Homo sapiens: one gene and its partners. The protein of the gene in region 1 interacts with the protein of each later gene in a biochemical or structural test. Each region holds a gene or a part of one and is shown in the gene's direction. Other genes may lie near its edges.

Region 1 (7,024 bases):
AGATAGTGGCTACTATAGTAGACAGTGCAGCATTAGGGTTTTAAAATTTGTAATGTATTCTAGTACTTAAATTTGAAATATAGCTTTGTGAATGGTTCTCATCCTGGTTGGAAGCTTACTGTAGTATTTTTAGCAGTTGTGAGAAAAGTAACAAGAAATTTGTTGTGGTACCTAAGTTTGCTGTGTTTGTTCATATAATTTGAACAGTTTTGAGGTAAACACAATTACACTACTCTCCCCATATCACTCAATATTTCTTTTTTATGGTTGTCATCACTGCTTTTTTGTTGTTGTTGTTATGGATCAGCATTTTCTTGAATAAAAGAAAAGGGGTAGAATTACAGTCAATTTTACAAATTCCATTAGAAATTTTATAAATTTTTAAACTAAAAAAAAAAAAAACCAAACTGTAGTTCTAGTTTCCAGTGTTCTTATCTGTTAAAGGTGAGAGATGAGCAGAACTGATTTGGGTTTCTTTTTCAGTTGTGAACTGTACAGCCCTGGAATCCCCTGAGCATGGAAGCCTGGTTTGCAGTCACCCACTGGGAAACTTCAGCTACAATTCTTCCTGCTCTATCAGCTGTGATAGGGGTTACCTGCCAAGCAGCATGGAGACCATGCAGTGTATGTCCTCTGGAGAATGGAGTGCTCCTATTCCAGCCTGCAATGGTAAATCCCTCTGAGAATGCACAGAACGTTCTGTAACTCATCCCTCATTGCTTCTGTTTTTTGATTCAACTTACATTTTCAAAACTTCAGGGAAAGTTTTTTTTTTGTTTTTGTTTTTAATACAATTTGTTCTCTCAGCCAATGTATATTGCCAACCCAGTACCTGCTTGGGTTGAGAGAGGTTTTTTTATTCTATGCTTGAAATGGGTGTTTCTGAGGCTCTGGTGATTTGTAAGGGAGACCATAAAACAATAAAGCTCTAGAAATCTCAATGGATTTCTCATCTTGTTTCCCTGTTTAACTTTTCCAAGCCATGGGACTAACTTAAGACCATGATAGTCAAGCAGTCTTAGTATCTCTTTTTCTCTCTTAATTTTATCTTTCTGAACCAGAGGCCAAAAAAAGAAAAATCAGTTCTTCAGGCTCTGATGGGCTAAAATAAATGAATAGCCTACGTATGTCAGTACTAGTCATAACTCCTAATCTGGAATCTATTTTTTTTAAATTTTTACCTCACGTAAATGATAACATAGATTAGAGACCACTCAGCATAGGCAAAGTGGAAATCAGAAAAGATAGAATATCCATGAAAAAGAATAAAAGCTTTTATTCTGGCTGTGCATGTCCCTAAGAATTGACATAGGACTTTGGGATCTACCCTTTGAAGGCAGCTTCCTCACTCTGTTAGGCACCCAGCTCAATAGGAAGTGAAAAGATCATTCTTCTGTAAAATTCATGGTGCTCTTTAAAATCCTCAGTGGTTGAGTGTGATGCTGTGACAAATCCAGCCAATGGGTTCGTGGAATGTTTCCAAAACCCTGGAAGCTTCCCATGGAACACAACCTGTACATTTGACTGTGAAGAAGGATTTGAACTAATGGGAGCCCAGAGCCTTCAGTGTACCTCATCTGGGAATTGGGACAACGAGAAGCCAACGTGTAAAGGTAGAGTTGTTCCACATGGAGACTTACTGTGAACATTCTTTCTCTCAACCCATACTGGAAATGGGCAAGCTAATTCTAGGCCGTGCTAATATCAATGCGTATATTTGTTACAGCTGTGACATGCAGGGCCGTCCGCCAGCCTCAGAATGGCTCTGTGAGGTGCAGCCATTCCCCTGCTGGAGAGTTCACCTTCAAATCATCCTGCAACTTCACCTGTGAGGAAGGCTTCATGTTGCAGGGACCAGCCCAGGTTGAATGCACCACTCAAGGGCAGTGGACACAGCAAATCCCAGTTTGTGAAGGTAAGCTTGAGATCCTTCGATTTATACTTTCTTAAAGAACAACCATCTTCAAACTTGGACAGTGAAAAAAAAAACCAATACCCACTTTAACTATAGAAATCAGATTTGATGAGCAACCCTCGTATCTTTGAGATTCATTTAAAAGAACTAATGTTTGGCCAGGGAAAGGATCATATGTGTTAAGAATGAATTCTTTGCTGTTTTTTTTTAACTGTGATGTGCTGATAAAACTTTGTAGACATTAGCATGGAATAGACAGAATTCTTAATCTAAAGGAATCATATTAGAAAATTCGGAAAGCAGAATAATGAGAACATGATTTGAATGTAAAACTCTCATCACACCTGTCTTCTGAAATGGCTCATAATTAGCAGTGATGAGACTGTTTCAAGCATGGTGTCAGCTACAGAGATAGTATTGATGCATATATAAGCAGTAAATTTTAATTCACTTTAAAGTGAGAGCAAGGATATTGAAAACAAGCAGTTTTTACTATCAGGCACTGGCCTTGTCCTAGCCAAAGCCAGCACAGAATGATTTCCAGTAGCAAAACATAACACAAAAACCAAACTGCAAAACAGACAAATTTTATAGGGGTGCTTTCTTTTCTTTCTTTTTGGCACCATCTATAAACATCCATGACCCATATGTTGTCCTCAGACTGCGTGAAATCTTTCCTTGGACCATAATTTATTTTGTGTGTTAGAAGAACAGTGCTCAGGAACTAATGTTCTGATTAATTAGTCTTTTAATTAGTGCCATGATCAGTGAGGGGGCTGAAATTCAAAGAAAACACAGCCATCTTCCCATTTGTCCAGGGAATTATAAAGAATCTTCAGTTCTCCAAGTGTTGCTTGAATGAACTGGGTTCACTCAACAAACGCCAAGTACTCTCTAGTTCCACTGCAATATTTTCTGACCATCATTTTGATGTCTCAGCTTTCCAGTGCACAGCCTTGTCCAACCCCGAGCGAGGCTACATGAATTGTCTTCCTAGTGCTTCTGGCAGTTTCCGTTATGGGTCCAGCTGTGAGTTCTCCTGTGAGCAGGGTTTTGTGTTGAAGGGATCCAAAAGGCTCCAATGTGGCCCCACAGGGGAGTGGGACAACGAGAAGCCCACATGTGAAGGTACAGTCTTTGTTTTTATTTTATTTTAAGATAAAAAGAACTATTGAAGAGCTTGGGAACTTGGTTACCTTGGGAAACGTATTGCTGGAGATGCAAACAAACTTCTAAAGTGCTCTCTCGTGTGTTCCAGCTGTGAGATGCGATGCTGTCCACCAGCCCCCGAAGGGTTTGGTGAGGTGTGCTCATTCCCCTATTGGAGAATTCACCTACAAGTCCTCTTGTGCCTTCAGCTGTGAGGAGGGATTTGAATTACATGGATCAACTCAACTTGAGTGCACATCTCAGGGACAATGGACAGAAGAGGTTCCTTCCTGCCAAGGTAGAATTGAGTGCAGACTTTTTTAGGGTACAGGTCAAATACTTCATAAAGTTTCTGAACCTAGATTGCCCCAAAGGGGTTTGGTCCTAATTTCCTACATGCTGAAAACTAAGTAGCGCTTACACTTTACATTCATTGTTGACTTTTAAGCAAGTTTTGGAAGTTTTCCAGTAGATTTTTCTGAAACTCTGCCTGTGTACCTAACATTTGCAGTGGTAAAATGTTCAAGCCTGGCAGTTCCGGGAAAGATCAACATGAGCTGCAGTGGGGAGCCCGTGTTTGGCACTGTGTGCAAGTTCGCCTGTCCTGAAGGATGGACGCTCAATGGCTCTGCAGCTCGGACATGTGGAGCCACAGGACACTGGTCTGGCCTGCTACCTACCTGTGAAGGTGATGCATTGATTGATGGTGGTTGTCTGGTGATTAAAAAGAAAAAGGGGGAGCTATCTTGTTACAGTAATCAACTATTCATTATATCCAAACCAGAAAGTTCGCCCAGGTTGACAAGTTGTGAATATTAAGTTGTATGGGGATAGAGAAAAAACAGAAGTTGCATGTTGATGGAAAGGGTAGAATTCTGACAACTGGAAAAAGGAGACAGAGAGAGGAGAGGAGAAAGGGGAAATGGAAAACAAGAGGGAGTGAGAGCAAGAGAGCAAGCAAGTGCAGTGTTTATTAACCAAGGTGTGGTGTGGTATTGTGAACGAGCTTGGCAAGTTAGAGTTCTGCCTGCCAATGGTGGAAATAGCTTCAAAGGTGGCTTGGAGCAGATCTCAAAGGCCTGTAATGCCACATCTCTGCTTCTTGTATTAAACTAGATAGCTCTTCTGCTCCTAGTAATGAATGTACAGAAAAAAGGCCAAAGGGACAGGACGGAGAGACTTTAACATCAATTCTTCCTCATGACCTTTCTTCGTCTCTTACTTCCTTAGCTCCCACTGAGTCCAACATTCCCTTGGTAGCTGGACTTTCTGCTGCTGGACTCTCCCTCCTGACATTAGCACCATTTCTCCTCTGGCTTCGGAAATGCTTACGGAAAGGTGAGGAAGTTTATGAATGTACTTCAAAAATGTTTTTGAAAATACATTTCTTTCTCATTGATAAGTCATGGTCTTGCTTACTGATTTAAACAATAATTAGAATCTGGATAAAATGCAGTATAATTAAGCAGAAGTATTAAGAAAAGAGTTAGTAGTACAACTCAGTGTGGGAAGTGTTTCAGGAAATAAAAATGTTAGTCGTGCCTAATATTGTACAACTCCAGGGGGTGCTATTCATGTTGAATTATATGATGCCTCCCGGAATTGTGCAATGGAACTGCCATGATGAGCACTCTAAGGAAAATGGATAAAATTCTTCCTAAGGAGATTTATTTGGAGTACAGGCTTAAATTTGAGAGTCTCTCATAAGGAATATGGAAGCACATCTGACTACACTCATGGTTTGTTTGGCTTACATGTTTAAGAGTACTTAAAACATTTTTGAGTTAAGTTCTGACGTTTACAAAATAGGAAATCTCACATTTAAATTAAGACTTTGGACTTCTCATGAAAAATTGGGAGCTGAATTGGGCAAGATGACCCCGTAGCTATTTGCTGGCATTAGGAAGCTGCTATGCCCTTTGGATGGCTGTGCACTTTGCATTTTACCCTAGATGCCACAGAGCCATGCTTGTGCTCTGATTATTACAGAGGCCCTGAAGCATCGAGTTTGCAACACTTGATGAATTAAGTCATATTGTATCTGGATTTAATATATCCTTAAAAGTCATTTAGTCTGAATTAATGGTTGTTTGTCTTTTCTTTTGCAGCAAAGAAATTTGTTCCTGCCAGGTAAGTTGCATTCTTATACAAAGCATGCCATTGAACATTCCACATATTTTTCTCTCTTCATGTTGGAAGACAGTGCTTTACCTAGTGTTCTCATGTATTCCACAGCAGCTGCCAAAGCCTTGAATCAGATGGAAGCTACCAAAAGCCTTCTTACATCCTTTAAGTTCAAAAGAATCAGGTAAGACTTGTAAATCACAAATGGTTATGAGAGAGGTATCTTCTCTACATGCTCTGTTTCTCCTTGAACCCTCCAAACTTGCCAATATCTTAGGGAGGGAGCAGGGGAGAAATCATCACCTGGGTATTGTTCTGGAAAGTTGCTTTATTTTTTGTAGAAGGAGAGGAAAGAAACGGATCTAGCTTTATTGTGTAATTTCATTTATGATAGATAATAATAATGAAGATAGCTGACCCTTACATTGCACTTATTATATTCTGGGAATTTTTCTAAGCTAGGAACTCTGAGATAGGGGCTGGTACTATATTTCTTATCTTTTCTTTTTACTTTTTTTTTTTTTAATTTTGAGATGGAGTCTCATTCTGTTGCCTAGACTGGAGTGCAGTGGCATGATCTTGGCTCACTGCAACCTCCACCTCCTGCGTTCAAGCAATTCTCCTGCCTCAGCCTCCTGAGTAGCTGGGATTACAGGTGCCTGCCACCACACCCAGCTAATTTTTGTATTTTTAGTAGAGATTTTGTATTTTTTCGTCATGTTGGCCAGGCTGATCTTGAACTCCTGATCCACCCGCCTTGGCCTCTCAAAGTGCTGGGATTACAGGCGTGAGCCACTGGGCCTGGCCTGTTACTTTATTTCTTATCACACAGATGAAGAAAATGAGACAGAGAAGTTAAGTAAATTGTCTGAAATCTCAAAGCTAGTAAGTGGTGTAGCCAGGATTCAAACTCTGGCAGTCTGGTTCTAAAATTTGTGTTCTTAACTACTCCGACCTGCTTTGAGAGAATTTGGAAAGGTCAAGTCCCTCTGAATACTTTTTAAAAAATTAAAATAACTTTTTTTGTGTGTGCGGTTTTAAGTTTACAGAAAAATTGAGCAGAAAGCACAAAGAGTTCCAACATATCTCCCCACCACCCCTTCAATTCCCCCTGTTATTAACATCTTATATTAGTGTTACAACTGATGGGCCAATATTGATACATTATTATTCATTAATGTCCACAGGCTACATTAGAATTCACTCTGTGCTGTGTTGTATATTCTGTAGGTTTTGACAGAGGTATAATATGTAGACATCATCACTGTCCTAACTGAATAGAATTCGATGTTCCTACATGGTCTATCCTAGTGAGAGTGTCTGTGTTAGAAGGTACATTTTGTTGTCATGATCAGTATGCAGAATATTAAGTGTTCTGATGACATGCATGTTTATATTTACAGAAACAGGTGCATCTGGGGAACTAGAGGGATACACTGAAGTTAACAGAGACAGATAACTCTCCTCGGGTCTCTGGCCCTTCTTGCCTACTATGCCAGATGCCTTTATGGCTGAAACCGCAACACCCATCACCACTTCAATAGATCAAAGTCCAGCAGGCAAGGACGGCCTTCAACTGAAAAGACTCAGTGTTCCCTTTCCTACTCTCAGGATCAAGAAAGTGTTGGCTAATGAAGGGAAAGGATATTTTCTTCCAAGCAAAGGTGAAGAGACCAAGACTCTGAAATCTCAGAATTCCTTTTCTAACTCTCCCTTGCTCGCTGTAAAATCTTGGCACAGAAACACAATATTTTGTGGCTTTCTTTCTTTTGCCCTTCACAGTGTTTCGACAGCTGATTACACAGTTGCTGTCATAAGAATGAATAATAATTATCC
Region 2 (6,952 bases), on another chromosome or scaffold:
ATTTTTCTGAGACAGGATCTCACTCTGTCACCCAGGCTGGAGTGCAGTGGCATAATCTCAGCTCACTGCAACCTCCACTTGCCGCTTTCAAGTGATCTTCCCGCGTAAGCCTCCTGAGTAACTGGGACTATAGGTTGCACCATTATGCCCAGCCAATTTTTGTATTTTTAGTAAAGGCCTGACCTCAGGTGATCCACCCGCCTCGGCCTCCCAAAGTGCTGGGATTACAGGTAGGTGTGAGCCACCATGCCTAGCAGGCCTTCATTTTGAATGCTTATTCCCACCTCCTTAGAATCTTGAACTAGTTATTAATGTCTGATTTTGGAACACTTAGAGTCCTCTTTTCATGGTTGCACTTGGGAGGCCGAGGCAGGCAATCACCTGAAGTCAGGAGTTCGAGACTAGCCTGGTCAACATGGTGAAATCTCTCTCTACTAAAAATACAAAAACTAGCTGGGCGTGGTGGCAGGCGCCTGTAATCCTAGTTACTTGGGGAGGCTGAGGCAGGAGAATCACTTGAACCCGGGAGGCAGAGGTTGCAGAGCTGAGATCATGCCATTGCACAGCAGCCTGGGCAACAAGAGTGAAACACTCCATCTCAAATAATAATAATAATAATAATAATAATAATAATAATAATAATAATAAAAGAACAAATTCTCAACAGCCCAGGTGCAGGGCTGACACCTGTAATCCCAGCACTTTGGGAAGCTGAGGTGGAAGGATCACTTGAGCTTGGGAGGCTGAGGATGCAGTGAACATGATCATGCCATTATATTGTAGTCTGGGTGACAGAACAAGACCCTGTCTCAAAAACAAAAAAAAATACTAAAATTACAAAAAAAAAATAATTAGCTGGGCGTGGTGGCACACACCGGTAGTCCCAGCTACTTAGGAGGCTGAGGCGGGAAGACTGCTTGAGCCCAGGAGGTTGGGGCTGCAGTGAGCCACAATTATCATGCCACTGCACTCTAGCCTGGGTGACAGAGGGAGACCCCGTCTGAAAACAAACAAGGAAAATGCTCATGGCTGGGCCCGGTGGCTTATCCCTGTAATCCCAACACTTTGGGAGGCCAAGGTAGGTGGATCCCTTGAGGTCAGGAATTCAAGATCAGCATGGCCAACATGGTGAAACCCCGTCTCTACTAAAAGTACAAAAACTAGCCGGTTGTGGTGGTGCACGCCTGTAATACCAGCTACTTGGGAGGCTACAGCAGGAGAATCGCTTGGACCCAGGAGGCGGAGGTTGCAGTGAGCTGAGATCACAACACTGCACTCCAGCCTGGGTGGCAGAGCAAGACTCCGTCTCAAAAAAAAAAAAAAAGAAAATGTTCAACAGATACCTGCTTGATGAATAAATTAAGAAAGTGAGGATCAGGAAACAAAGGATACAATAAAGGGTAAAAAGAACTCCCCGTTTCTTGGCTGGGCACAGTGGCTCATGCCTGTAATCCTAGCACTTTGGGAGGCCGAGGAGGATGGATCATAAGGTCAAGAGATTGAGACTCTCCTGGCCAACATGGTGAAATCCCGTCTCTAAAAATACAAAAATTAGCTGGGCATGGTGGCGCACACTTGTAGTCCCATCTACTTGGGAGGCTGAGGCAAGAGAATTGCTTGAATCCGGGAGGCAGAGGTTGCAGTGAGCCGAGATCGCGCCACTGCACTTCAGCCTGGCGACAGTGTGACTCCTCTCAAAAAAAAAAGAAAAAAGAATTCCCCGTTTCTGATAGAGATAGTATATGTTATATTGAAAAGGCAATGAGACCAGAAGACCTGAGTTAAGGCAACTGTCTTTCCGTGGGTTTGGGGGCTCGTGGCTTCCGTAAGGTCTACGCTTGCCTGACAGCCTGAGCTGGCCAGGTTCCCAGATTTATCTGTTTCTTGCTTCTTGGTGACTGAGATTTCAAGATAGCCATGTGTACTCCTCCCTATCTCTGGAGGCAATCTGTGGCTGTGGTTTCCTCAGTTCAGGCTGAAAGATAAGTAACTGATGGCTTATCTAGGATTGTCAATTTCTAGTTAAACTGGCTTAAAATAATCTCCCACTTGTCTGAACACATGCAGACTCAGCATTGAAAATTAATGGAGGCCAGGCGCAGTACCTCACGCCTGTAATCCTAGCACTTTGGGAGGCTGAGGTGGGCAGATCGCCTGAGGTTTGGGGTTCGAGACCAGCCTGGCCAACATGGCAAAACCCCGTCGCTACTAAAAATACAAAAATTAGCTGGGTGTGGTGGCACATGCCTGTAATCCCAGCCACTCGGAGGCTGAGGCAGGAGAACTGCTTGAACCCAGGAGGTGGAGGTGGCAGCTCCGAGCAGAGATCACGCCACTGCACTCCAGCCTGGGCAACAGAGTGAGATTCCGTCTCAAAAAAAAAAAAAAAAAATTAACATACGCTAGTGACATCTCAAGGACTTCTGGTGATGTGTCCAGCCTGCCTGACTGAAACTTACCTATGCCATGTGTTTGCTAATAAACATGGGGCTGCCTTAGTCAGTGCTCAAGGTTAGCAGCAGCCTCATGATCATTTTATGACAGTAGCAAAGGTGACCGTTGGTGGAGATGCCAACAAGCTCTCATTCCCCATGATAGAGGCCTGGGGTCAGCCACAGTGGGTAATTTGTACTCACAGAATATCTTCAGTCTCAGGAGCTCCTTTTGGGTTCCCTGAGCTCCTGACTTTTCAGGTTCTAGTTATGTCTAACTTGGTCTTGACTGCTCATTTGCGGGTCAGGACAGCAGAAGCTGTCTGTTTACTACAGTAGATGTAATTCGCATTTTTGGACACAATGACCAGTGGAGATTACACAACCCAAACTGCCCTCATTCCCCAACATGTGCATGGACAGAGTGGGATGAAAGTGCGCCAGGGTGGTGGGAAGCCCCAGGGATTCTGGTGGCTAGCCTAGCTGTCTACAGGATGGCAGAGTTCCTCTTGGGCAGCTCATTTAATCCCTCCACGCAGAACTGTTAACATCTCTGTGCCATTCTTCAGTTAAATGAGAACCTAACGCAGGCCTGATGCATGGCTCAGATTACACAGCGGATGTGAAGAGGCTTTGGGAACATATCCTCTCTCCTAAGGACAGGGAGGGGATGCTAGTGTGGGGTGCCTGCGGTGTTGCATGCAGGTCAATGAGAACAGTTACCGACACACAGACTTAACCCGAGTCCTCAAAGATGTGTTTTATTATTATTTTTTCATCCTTTAAACATGAATCTAAATGCTGGCTTAAAATCAGGATTCATGCATAAACGGCTTCCCAGTTTATTAACAATACTGGCTGTGACTTTTTGAGTTCAGTGTTGTGGGCCAGGCACTTAAATTATTATTTCGAATCTTGCCAATGGTACTTTACATTTGAGCTCTTGCGTACCCTGCCAGAGCAAGGATTATAACCTTAATTTTTTTTCTTACCCCAGAACTTATGCTCTTAACCCTATTCAATGCTGTCTCTCTCTTTGGCTAAGAAAGACTTCTGAGGCAGATGGAAGGAAGGAAGGAAGGAGGGAGCGATACAAGGAGAGGCTTTCCGATTCCGTAATACACCTGGTTGTGCAAAGTTCACCTCTACATATAAAGTTTTTGTTTTCCAAGTCATTGAACCGGCGACATATTCTACCGGCCATTTTGGTTGTGGCAACCCCAATTCCCTTGATTTTTTTTTTTGTGACAGCAAATGGAATTAGAGTAGGCCGCCCTGCCCGGGCTTTTTAAGAAACCCCAGCAACCCCCCCGGGTAAGGAGCGCCGCTCTCCCGCCCGCCGGTCCAGGGTGTGTGCGGTTTCCAGCACGGCCTCCTCCTTCGCCCCACTCTGGGTTCGCGGGTCGGCGCCGGCGGGGCGGGGCTCGGCAGGGCCACGCTGCCACGCCCAGCGTCTCCACCCCCTCATTTAAATACGCGGCGCCGGCGAGTGCGTCGAGCTCGCCGCGGACTCAAGATGGCGGCGTGTGGACGTGTACGGAGGATGTTCCGCTTGTCGGCGGCGCTGCATCTGCTGCTGCTATTCGCGGCCGGGGCCGAGAAACTCCCCGGCCAGGGCGTCCACAGCCAGGGCCAGGGTCCCGGGGCCAACTTTGTGTCCTTCGTAGGGCAGGCCGGAGGCGGCGGCCCGGCGGGTCAGCAGCTGCCCCAGCTGCCTCAGTCATCGCAGCTTCAGCAGCAACAGCAGCAGCAGCAACAGCAACAGCAGCCTCAGCCGCCGCAGCCGCCTTTCCCGGCGGGTGGGCCTCCGGCCCGGCGGGGAGGAGCGGGGGCTGGTGGGGGCTGGAAGCTGGCGGAGGAAGAGTCCTGCAGGGAGGACGTGACCCGCGTGTGCCCTAAGCACACCTGGAGCAACAACCTGGCGGTGCTCGAGTGCCTGCAGGATGTGAGGGAGGTGAGGAGGTGGGACGAAGCCGGGAGGGCCAGGCCTGGTGCGGGCCCGAGGGTGTTGCCGGCCTTGGAAGCCGCTGACGCCGGTCGGCTGCTTTCCTTGCTTCCTCTGTGCTGCACTCGCTCCTTCCCTCTTTGCTCCTCACTCCCAGGCGCTTTCAGGGAAAAGGATACCACTCCCACTCCTTCTTTCCCCCGCCCTTATTTCCCTCCCTGTTGCCGGGGTCTGGGACGAAAACCTGGGCTCCTGGCCGCAATCCGCCGAGGCCCAGAGCGTGTCTGTTCGCTCCTGTCTTTTGTGTGATGCTCTATGCAGAGTGTCTCCTCGCCGAAGATCAGTTTAGGATTTTGCCATCAGTTTCGACTAGGACAATTTGTGGCAAGCCATTTAAACATAAAAAAATGCCTGGCGTACTTAGGCTGTAAAGAATGATCTGTTTATTAGCAGTAGATGTAATTCGCAAATCCATATTTTTGGTGCTGAAATTAATGTATGCTTTGTTTTCTTCACTTCCTTTGGTCAGTTGTATTGAACCCCATGTTTAAGCTGTTAACTCCCAGTGACTTGGCGCCCCAAAGCTTGAAAAGTTGGGGAAGCGTTTGAAGCTGTGTTTGTGACTGGGTTATGGGATCTTGCCTTTCTGAGGTCTGAATGTGATTTTAACAGTATCTCTTAATGAAATCTACATTTGTCGTTGCTTGGTGTGATTCAGTTGAGTGACATTGATAATTTATAATCAAGTGACATTGATAATTTATAATCTAGGTTTAATGCTGCAGACCATAATGACAATTCTCAAAGTTTGGGAGCAAATCTGACAGTAGTAACTTTTTCCAGAGGTGTAGGTATATAAAATTAGCCCTAAAGGTGGACAAATAGAATGAAGCTACCACTTGATACTGTTTTTGGTTTTTTTTTTAAATATCAGATTTGTTTAAGGCGTTCAAGCTATAGCAAGACCACTTGCTTGTAGAAATTTGCTTCTCTTGGCATTTCCCCCCTTCATCTCGTGTTCTAGTATTCTATACAAAAGCAATTCAGATAGAGGAAAAGACATACATAAGCAGGAGACAGAAAGAAAGGAAGTTTCCAGAGCCCCTAGAAATGTGAGGCCTTACCTGACTTCTCATCTTCAGCTTAACGACTAGAGGGATAGTCCTCTGGTAGATACAGCTAATATTCCTAACTCTGTCGAACTTTTTGGAATTTTCTTTTCGCTCTTTGAGGACACATAATAGATGTCGTTTCATCAAACTAGGATCCTAATACTGGTGACCAAACAATTAGTAGTAGTTTGTGGTAGAAACAGCACATTATTAGGGAAAGTGGCAAAAAGTGGCCTATTCAAGGAGTGTATATATCCTTCATGTGTATTCCGGACATTTGGAAACCTCCACTTAAAGGAGGCAGTTTTATGCTCCAGAGGAGGAAAGGCGTCATATAAATTGGAAATGGGGGTTTTGGGGGGTTGGGGGGAGGTGGAGGGACCAAATTTCCAATTTAATGTTTTTTCCTCCAGTTTTTACATACAGAAATAATGAAGGAAGAGTACTGTGAACACCTATGTGTATTCTTCAGGAGGTGGAGTTATTTTTAAACTTCTTTTCTTTTTTTTGAGATGGAGTCTCACTCTGTCGCCAGGCTGGAGTGCAGTGGCTTGAACTTGGCTCACTGCAACCTCCACCTCCCGGCTTTAAGCAATTCTGCCTCAGCCACCTGAGTACCTGGGACTACAGGCGAGCGCCACCACGCCCAGCTAATTTTTGTATTTTTAGTAGAGACAGGGTTTCACCATGTTGGCCAGGATGGTCTCGATCTCCTGACCTTGTGATCTGCCAGCCTCGGGCTCCCAAAGTGCTGAGATTAGTGGTGTGAGCCACCACCCCCACCCTATTTTCTTTTTCTTTAAAGACAGCGAAAGGAAATTTCATTCTGCTTAGTCTGGGAGTTAATTAAATCTGATCTATGTGTTTGAAAGAGCATAACTTAAAGAAGTAAACTAGTTAGGCACATTTGAAGAAACATGTATAGAATATGTTTTGTATTTGCTGTTCAGTAAGTAGAACTATTTGATAGTGAAATAGATATATGTACTTTTCTGTCCCTTTGCATGCAAATGCAGGGAACATTTTCCTATCCGTACCCATTATTGGAATTATGAAAAGGCAGAGCATATGAGTACAGTTGTTCCTTGGTATCACTGGAGGATGGTTCCAGGCCTCCTGCAGATATTGAAATCCAAGGACGCTCAAGTACCTTATACCGTATAAAATGGTGTCGTATTTCCATATCATCTGTGCACACCCTTCCGAATTCTTGTCTTCTCTAAAATACTTGTGATACCTAGTACAGTGCCTACATATCAGTTCATTCATGTGGATTCACTGTAGTACTTGGCATATGTCAAACTTAACTTTTGCTTTTTGGAACCTTATGGAACTTTTCTTTCTGAAAAAAAATTTTTTATTATGGAGACAGGGTCTCGCTCTGTCATCCAGGCTGGAGTGCAGTGGTGCAGTCATAGCTCACTGCAGCCTCAGTCTTCTGGGTTTGAGAGTTCACTGAAGCC
Region 3 (7,024 bases), on another chromosome or scaffold:
CTGCCACACAGGATCCCGAAGGCAAGCCGAAGAAGACACACATCCAAGACAACCATGACGGCACGTATACAGTGGCCTACGTGCCAGACGTGACAGGTCGCTACACCATCCTCATCAAGTACGGTGGTGACGAGATCCCCTTCTCCCCGTACCGCGTGCGTGCCGTGCCCACCGGGGACGCCAGCAAGTGCACTGTCACAGGTGAGCCCGCCCGCTGTTGGCCGCTGCGGCGCTCGGCACGGGGCTTGGGTTGTGCCTGTGTGCAAGGGCTCGCTGCTTGGGGCGGCGTGTGGGAGTGGGGGCCGCCCCCTTGAGTGACTCACCTGACCTTTCTCCTTGCTCTCTGCCCTCTCACCTCAGTGTCAATCGGAGGTCACGGGCTAGGTAAGCTGCTTGCTGGGGCCACTCCCAATGCCCCTCCTGCCCAGAGGGGCAGCTTCCTTTCCTCTTGGGGCCGATTCCCAGGACAGTTCCAGCTGCAGCTCTAGGCAGGGACAGAGTTGGGTGGGGTGCAGAAGATGAGGCCGTGGGCTGGAGGGCGAGGGCCCAGGGAGGCTTCCGGAGCTGAGCATGACCGCTCCAGCTCTTCCCCTCTCTGGGCCTTTATTTCCCCATCTGAGAACTCGGGTTGCAGCTGAGAGCTTTGGGGTGAGGTGCATCCTGAGAGGCACCCCACTGGGGACTTTGGGGTCTCGGGATCTTGGCACCCAGGGAGGCACAAGGGCTCCTGCGTGGGCTGAGGGAACAAGGGGTCTCCCCAACTCAATGGGAGCCCCAGCCCTGGCCAGATCCACAGACCCCCATCCCCACCTTCCAGGGGCCTCTGCGTCCCGGGCCGGGGGAGGTGCATGAGCGGGTGGGGCTGGCTGGTAGTGCAGTAGCGCCAGTGTCGACTGCTTGGGCGGCCAGCATGGCGGGGCCCGGCCCAGCCTCAGAGCCCCAAAGTGCATTCTGTGGCCCGTCTCCCTCCTTCCCCCTTCCCCTATCCCCCAGCAGTGACGTTATTCAGACATTCCCCAACAGGCATGGAGGGTCACCTGCCCCAGCCAGGGACACCCAGGGATGCTGATGAGAGGCTACAGGCCTGGCACTTGGGCGAGGTGGCTAAGGAAAGGGTGAGAGGGTGGCTAGAGTTTTGCGGCAGGAGCGAGATGGCTTTATAGAGCAGGCCGTAGGATCCGATGTGTGTGTGACAGGCGTGTGTGCGCAGGGCGGGGGAGGCTGGGGAGTACTGATTGCAGGGCCTTGGGGGCTTTGAGGGTGGGAGCAAGACTCAGTAACCTCAGTTTCCCTGGCTACTGTTTGCAGAATGGAGACAGGGAGCCCGGGGTGGGGAAGGGGGCGCTGAAGTTGCTCTCTGGCAAGCTTGACGGCCACGGGGCTTCAGTGAGAGCCAAATTAGGAGGCATACTTTGAGGATGGAGTGGCTGAGACCTGCGGTTGGCTGGGAGCCGGGCAGGGAAAGTGGGGGCAGTCGGGTACCTGTGAGGTTGGGGCCCAAGCCACTAACTAGATGGCATGGGGTGCACATGAGTGAAGCCTCCCAGGGCAGCGTGGGCAGCCGGCAGCCAGGTCTGGAGCCTGGGAGAGCTGCCTGGCCGCGGCAGGCCAGCATGGAGCCTAGTGCAGCAGGAGCCCTCGGCCGATAGTGGGACTTGGTGGCAGGGCCCCTCGAGCTTGGCCTTCAAGTAGGTTTCGTGCTCCTGGCTGCTTCCCTGGCAGGAGGCCAGGCTGCAGGGGGCACTCTCACTGCCAGGCCTCACAGCCCACAGCCCCCCAAGCCTCCACGGCGGAGACCCAGATCATAACGTCACTGTCTCTCCCCTTTCCTCGGGCACTCTGGGGCCCTGGAGCCTGCTCAGCTGCTCTGCCCTCGCAACCCAGCAGTGGTGGCTGTAGCTTGGGCCTCCTGTTCCCTGTCTCCCTGGGTGCTATCCCCGCTCTGCCAAGCCTGCTGCGCTGCGCTACTCGGGTGCTAACCCCGCTGCCTCCCGCTTCCCCGCTCCCACTCCTGTCTGCACCGGGCTGCTTTTCACCGCGAGCCTTCTCAGTTGTCAGGAAACTCCGGTTTCACCATCAGGCCTGGGGGGTGGGGAGGCAAGTGTCACATCCCCCCACGCTGCAGCAGGACTCCGCCTCACCGCGTCCACACACAGCAATGGGGGCCGGGGCCAGGCCAGAAGGGCGCAGGCAGCCGTGTGCCCAGCCAGATGCTGGCGTTCAGCAGTGTGGGCCATGGTGCTGGACGAGGCTGAGTAGGCAAGGGAGTGGCTGTCAACACTTAGGCTGGAGTGGGCCCTTCCTTTTCCTCCCAGGCACCTGGGTGCTACTGTCGGGCCTCTCCCACATGGGCACTTGAGGTGGTCAGGAGAAACCTTCCTGCCTTCTGAGAAACCACTCGCCATCCCAGCTTGGAGGGGCAGGGCGGGGCAGGAGGCCTGGCGGCCTGGCTGTGCTTGGTGGTGGCAATGAGAGGCCTGTGTGGGCGGCAGGCGGACGGGAACAACCTGAACCCGAGCTCACACGCTGGCCCCCCTTTGGGGACCCACCCTGCCCCACCAGGTGCTGGCATCGGCCCCACCATTCAGATTGGGGAGGAGACGGTGATCACTGTGGACACTAAGGCGGCAGGCAAAGGCAAAGTGACGTGCACCGTGTGCACGCCTGATGGCTCAGAGGTGGATGTGGACGTGGTGGAGAATGAGGACGGCACTTTCGACATCTTCTACACGGCCCCCCAGCCGGGCAAATACGTCATCTGTGTGCGCTTTGGTGGCGAGCACGTGCCCAACAGCCCCTTCCAAGTGACGGTGAGGAGGGGTGGGGGGTAGGTCAGCAGGGGTGTCTGGCAGGTCCCGGCCTGTTCCCCTGGGGCCCCTCTGTGACAACAGACTCTCCAGCAGCTCTCTGCTTTGCCCTGCAGGCTCTGGCTGGGGACCAGCCCTCGGTGCAGCCCCCTCTACGGTCTCAGCAGCTGGCCCCACAGTACACCTACGCCCAGGGCGGCCAGCAGACTTGGGTACGGCCTGGCCAGCTAGGGACACTGGGGCTAGCCAGCTGGGTGTTCTGTGAGCCCCTAGTTTACCATGTGTGAGGAGGGACCCCAGATCCTCCCACTGTCCCTCACCCATGCCCTGTGTCTCCACTGCAGGCCCCGGAGAGGCCCCTGGTGGGTGTCAATGGGCTGGATGTGACCAGCCTGAGGCCCTTTGACCTTGTCATCCCCTTCACCATCAAGAAGGGCGAGATCACAGGTGAGTGGGGACTTGGGAAGGAGCTCGGGAGCCAAGGAGGCCAGACTGTGCCAATGAGCTGCCCTGACCTCAGCCCCACTGCCCCACAGGGGAGGTTCGGATGCCCTCAGGCAAGGTGGCGCAGCCCACCATCACTGACAACAAAGACGGCACCGTGACCGTGCGGTATGCACCCAGCGAGGCTGGCCTGCACGAGATGGACATCCGCTATGACAACATGCACATCCCAGGTGGGCCTGCCCTGCCTCTGCCCACTCCACCGCCACCACCTCACAGAGAGATGGGGCTGGGGGACACACGAGGCTGCCATTCCACAAGGCCCTTCTTCCTGCCTCAGGAAGCCCCTTGCAGTTCTATGTGGATTACGTCAACTGTGGCCATGTCACTGCCTATGGGCCTGGCCTCACCCATGGAGTAGTGAACAAGCCTGCCACCTTCACCGTCAACACCAAGGATGCAGGAGAGGGTGAGCAATAGCTCTGGTCTTGACCTGCTCTGTGCCCGGGATGCCCTCACCGGGGTAAGGGCTGGACTCAGGAGATACTCCTGAATGGGGCTCCCTGCCCTGCTGCCCTGGCCATCGGAGCTCCTCAGTGCAGGCCAACTGGAGTGTCCCCAGCATAGTTCCCATGCTCACCCACGGCTCTCTCCAGGGGGCCTGTCTCTGGCCATTGAGGGCCCGTCCAAAGCAGAAATCAGCTGCACTGACAACCAGGATGGGACATGCAGCGTGTCCTACCTGCCTGTGCTGCCGGGGGACTACAGCATTCTAGTCAAGTACAATGAACAGCACGTCCCAGGCAGCCCCTTCACTGCTCGGGTCACAGGTGGGTGGCACTGGGAGCAGTGACAGAAACGGGTGGCAGGGTGGGCATGGTCTCCCATGGCTGGACGCACACTGATGGCTGGCCTGTCCCCACCAGGTGACGACTCCATGCGTATGTCCCACCTAAAGGTCGGCTCTGCTGCCGACATCCCCATCAACATCTCAGAGACGGATCTCAGCCTGCTGACGGCCACTGTGGTCCCGCCCTCGGGCCGGGAGGAGCCCTGTTTGCTGAAGCGGCTGCGTAATGGCCACGTGGGTAAGCGGCTGAAGGGTCCAGGGGGTTCAGAAAGGAGGCAGCCTGTGGGGAGCCATGCCCTCCCTGACTGACAGCCATGCCCTGTGTCCAGGGATTTCATTCGTGCCCAAGGAGACGGGGGAGCACCTGGTGCATGTGAAGAAAAATGGCCAGCACGTGGCCAGCAGCCCCATCCCGGTGGTGATCAGCCAGTCGGAAATTGGGGATGCCAGTCGTGTTCGGGTCTCTGGTCAGGGCCTTCACGAAGGCCACACCTTTGAGCCTGCAGAGTTTATCATTGATACCCGCGATGCAGGTAGGCAGTGGCTGCCCACCAGCTGGGGCGGGAGCACTGTGCATAGCACCGAGGCTCAGGGGTATCCATCCCCTAGGCTATGGTGGGCTCAGCCTGTCCATTGAGGGCCCCAGCAAGGTGGACATCAACACAGAGGACCTGGAGGACGGGACGTGCAGGGTCACCTACTGCCCCACAGAGCCAGGCAACTACATCATCAACATCAAGTTTGCCGACCAGCACGTGCCTGGTGAGTGCAGCAGTGCCTCGGCAGCCCCCCTCACTACACCAGGGCCCACAGGCAGTATGTGACTGGAGGGGCGTGGGCCGTGCTTTCTTCCTGCAGGCAGCCCCTTCTCTGTGAAGGTGACAGGCGAGGGCCGGGTGAAAGAGAGCATCACCCGCAGGCGTCGGGCTCCTTCAGTGGCCAACGTTGGTAGTCATTGTGACCTCAGCCTGAAAATCCCTGGTAGGGGCTGTGGGAAGCCTGGGGAGGGGTCCTGGGGCTCAAGCAGCCCCAAGAGGAGGGGTGGAGCCCAGGGCTGCTGCTCACTAGCCCATCCCCACCCTGCAGAAATTAGCATCCAGGATATGACAGCCCAGGTGACCAGCCCATCGGGCAAGACCCATGAGGCCGAGATCGTGGAAGGGGAGAACCACACCTACTGCATCCGCTTTGTTCCCGCTGAGATGGGCACACACACAGTCAGCGTGAAGTACAAGGGCCAGCACGTGCCTGGGAGCCCCTTCCAGTTCACCGTGGGGCCCCTAGGGGAAGGGGGAGCCCACAAGGTCCGAGCTGGGGGCCCTGGCCTGGAGAGAGCTGAAGCTGGAGTGCCAGGTAGGCCTGCTCACACCCCGAGTGCTCGCTCTCCTGCGTTGGCCAGGGTGGGGTTGGGGGTGGAGGAAAGAGCCGGCAGGCATGTCTACCTTGGCTATGCCTGGAGGGGGCCGAGGCTGGTGAAGCAGCCTTCAGTGAGGACAAACTGTTCTCCCACAGCCGAATTCAGTATCTGGACCCGGGAAGCTGGTGCTGGAGGCCTGGCCATTGCTGTCGAGGGCCCCAGCAAGGCTGAGATCTCTTTTGAGGACCGCAAGGACGGCTCCTGTGGTGTGGCTTATGTGGTCCAGGAGCCAGGTACTGGGAACCCGGCTGGGGTTGGAGGAGGTGGGGCCTGAGTGTGGGTATTGGACCCAGGGCTGGCACAGATAGCCCTGCCTGGCACTCACTCTTCACTTTGAGGTCACAGGGCCACCCAGGCTGTTCGTGGGAGGTGGGAGGCCCAAAGGCTGATGAGCCGGTCTTACACTCTTTCCCTGCCCAGGTGACTACGAAGTCTCAGTCAAGTTCAACGAGGAACACATTCCCGACAGCCCCTTCGTGGTGCCTGTGGCTTCTCCGTCTGGCGACGCCCGCCGCCTCACTGTTTCTAGCCTTCAGGTGAGGCACCGAGAGAAACCGCCCACCTGGGGCTCCTGGGCCCGGACAGACCAGAGCCACCGCAGAGACCAGGCCTTGGCCCTGTGTTCAGTGACCCCCCTGGCCCAGCTCTGGGTTCCAGGCCTCTGCTCTGGCCGGGTGCAGCCCACGCTTGGGGTCGGCAGGAAATATCCTGCCCACCACGTGGAGTTTTTCTCGTGTCTCAGGTCTAAAGGCTTTGAACAGAAGCCTGTGCCCCTTGAGCACCAGGGCTGCGGTTTAAAGAGGGACAGCCTGCCAAGGCTGGGTGCTGCCCACAGGGTGGGGCAGCCCTCCCTTCCTGCCACCTGGGTGTGTGCGACGGCAGAGTGTGGGGGCAGGGGCGGGGATGTGCGCCTGTGGCTTGCTGCCCCTTGCAAATCAGTGGCTCTCCCTCTTTAAACCAAGTTGGACGCCAGATGGGTAAGTGCGACCCGCGGGCCTCTTGCTCCTGGGGCCTTTCCGTCCTCCCTTGCCCTGGCTCAAGCACCCCCATCTAACCATGTCTGCTGTGCTTCCAGGAGTCAGGGCTAAAGGTCAACCAGCCAGCCTCTTTTGCAGTCAGCCTGAACGGGGCCAAGGGGGCGATCGATGCCAAGGTGCACAGCCCCTCAGGAGCCCTGGAGGAGTGCTATGTCACAGAAATTGACCAAGGTGAGGCCCTGTCCCTGCCCGGCCGCCCTGCCCTGCTGGCTGGAAGCAGGCTGAGAGTACAAAAGGAAGGTACCGCTTCTGTAAGCAGCCAAGACGGGGCCCCAACTCCTGGGCCCCCTAAGCCAGGCAACCCTTTCCCAATTGGTGACCCAAGCCGCTGGGGATGTGGCTCGCCACCCACAGCTATTAGGAAGGCCTTCTACCCTGCAGTACCATGCCATCTCCACAGGGAAAGACTCAAAGTCCAGCCTCAGTGCTGCCCGGCCCTTCAGCCACGGCCATGGTACTTGTGCACAGG

What was found. Proteins that work in one complex are often made in the same cells at the same time.
Region 2: the proteins of SELE (region 1) and GLG1 form a complex in vitro, tested with the Homo sapiens proteins (2 studies listed by BioGRID and IntAct).
Region 3: the proteins of SELE (region 1) and FLNA form a complex in vitro, tested with the Homo sapiens proteins (one study listed by BioGRID).

What each region holds. Positions count from the first base shown.
Region 1 is NC_000001.11:169,724,077-169,731,100, reverse strand, and holds part of SELE (E-selectin precursor), read left to right. Parts: intron 1-483; coding exon 484-669; intron 670-1,427; coding exon 1,428-1,613; intron 1,614-1,726; coding exon 1,727-1,915; intron 1,916-2,854; coding exon 2,855-3,043; intron 3,044-3,173; coding exon 3,174-3,362; intron 3,363-3,575; coding exon 3,576-3,752; intron 3,753-4,294; coding exon 4,295-4,402; intron 4,403-5,172; coding exon 5,173-5,194; intron 5,195-5,299; coding exon 5,300-5,357; 3' UTR 5,358-5,372; intron 5,373-6,591; 3' UTR 6,592-7,024. UniProt on the Homo sapiens protein: Cell-surface glycoprotein having a role in immunoadhesion. Mediates in the adhesion of blood neutrophils in cytokine-activated endothelium through interaction with SELPLG/PSGL1. May have a role in capillary morphogenesis.
Region 2 is NC_000016.10:74,604,091-74,611,042, reverse strand, and holds the start of GLG1 (Golgi apparatus protein 1 isoform 3 precursor), read left to right. Parts: upstream 1-3,928; 5' UTR 3,929-3,948; coding exon 3,949-4,386; intron 4,387-6,952. UniProt on the Homo sapiens protein: Binds fibroblast growth factor and E-selectin (cell-adhesion lectin on endothelial cells mediating the binding of neutrophils).
Region 3 is NC_000023.11:154,350,611-154,357,634, reverse strand, and holds part of FLNA (filamin-A), read left to right. Parts: intron 1-11; coding exon 12-201; intron 202-360; coding exon 361-384; intron 385-2,562; coding exon 2,563-2,810; intron 2,811-2,923; coding exon 2,924-3,019; intron 3,020-3,151; coding exon 3,152-3,254; intron 3,255-3,343; coding exon 3,344-3,484; intron 3,485-3,591; coding exon 3,592-3,720; intron 3,721-3,907; coding exon 3,908-4,081; intron 4,082-4,177; coding exon 4,178-4,339; intron 4,340-4,430; coding exon 4,431-4,634; intron 4,635-4,710; coding exon 4,711-4,863; intron 4,864-4,959; coding exon 4,960-5,082; intron 5,083-5,187; coding exon 5,188-5,454; intron 5,455-5,613; coding exon 5,614-5,751; intron 5,752-5,938; coding exon 5,939-6,054; intron 6,055-6,593; coding exon 6,594-6,726; intron 6,727-7,024. UniProt on the Homo sapiens protein: Promotes orthogonal branching of actin filaments and links actin filaments to membrane glycoproteins. Anchors various transmembrane proteins to the actin cytoskeleton and serves as a scaffold for a wide range of cytoplasmic signaling proteins.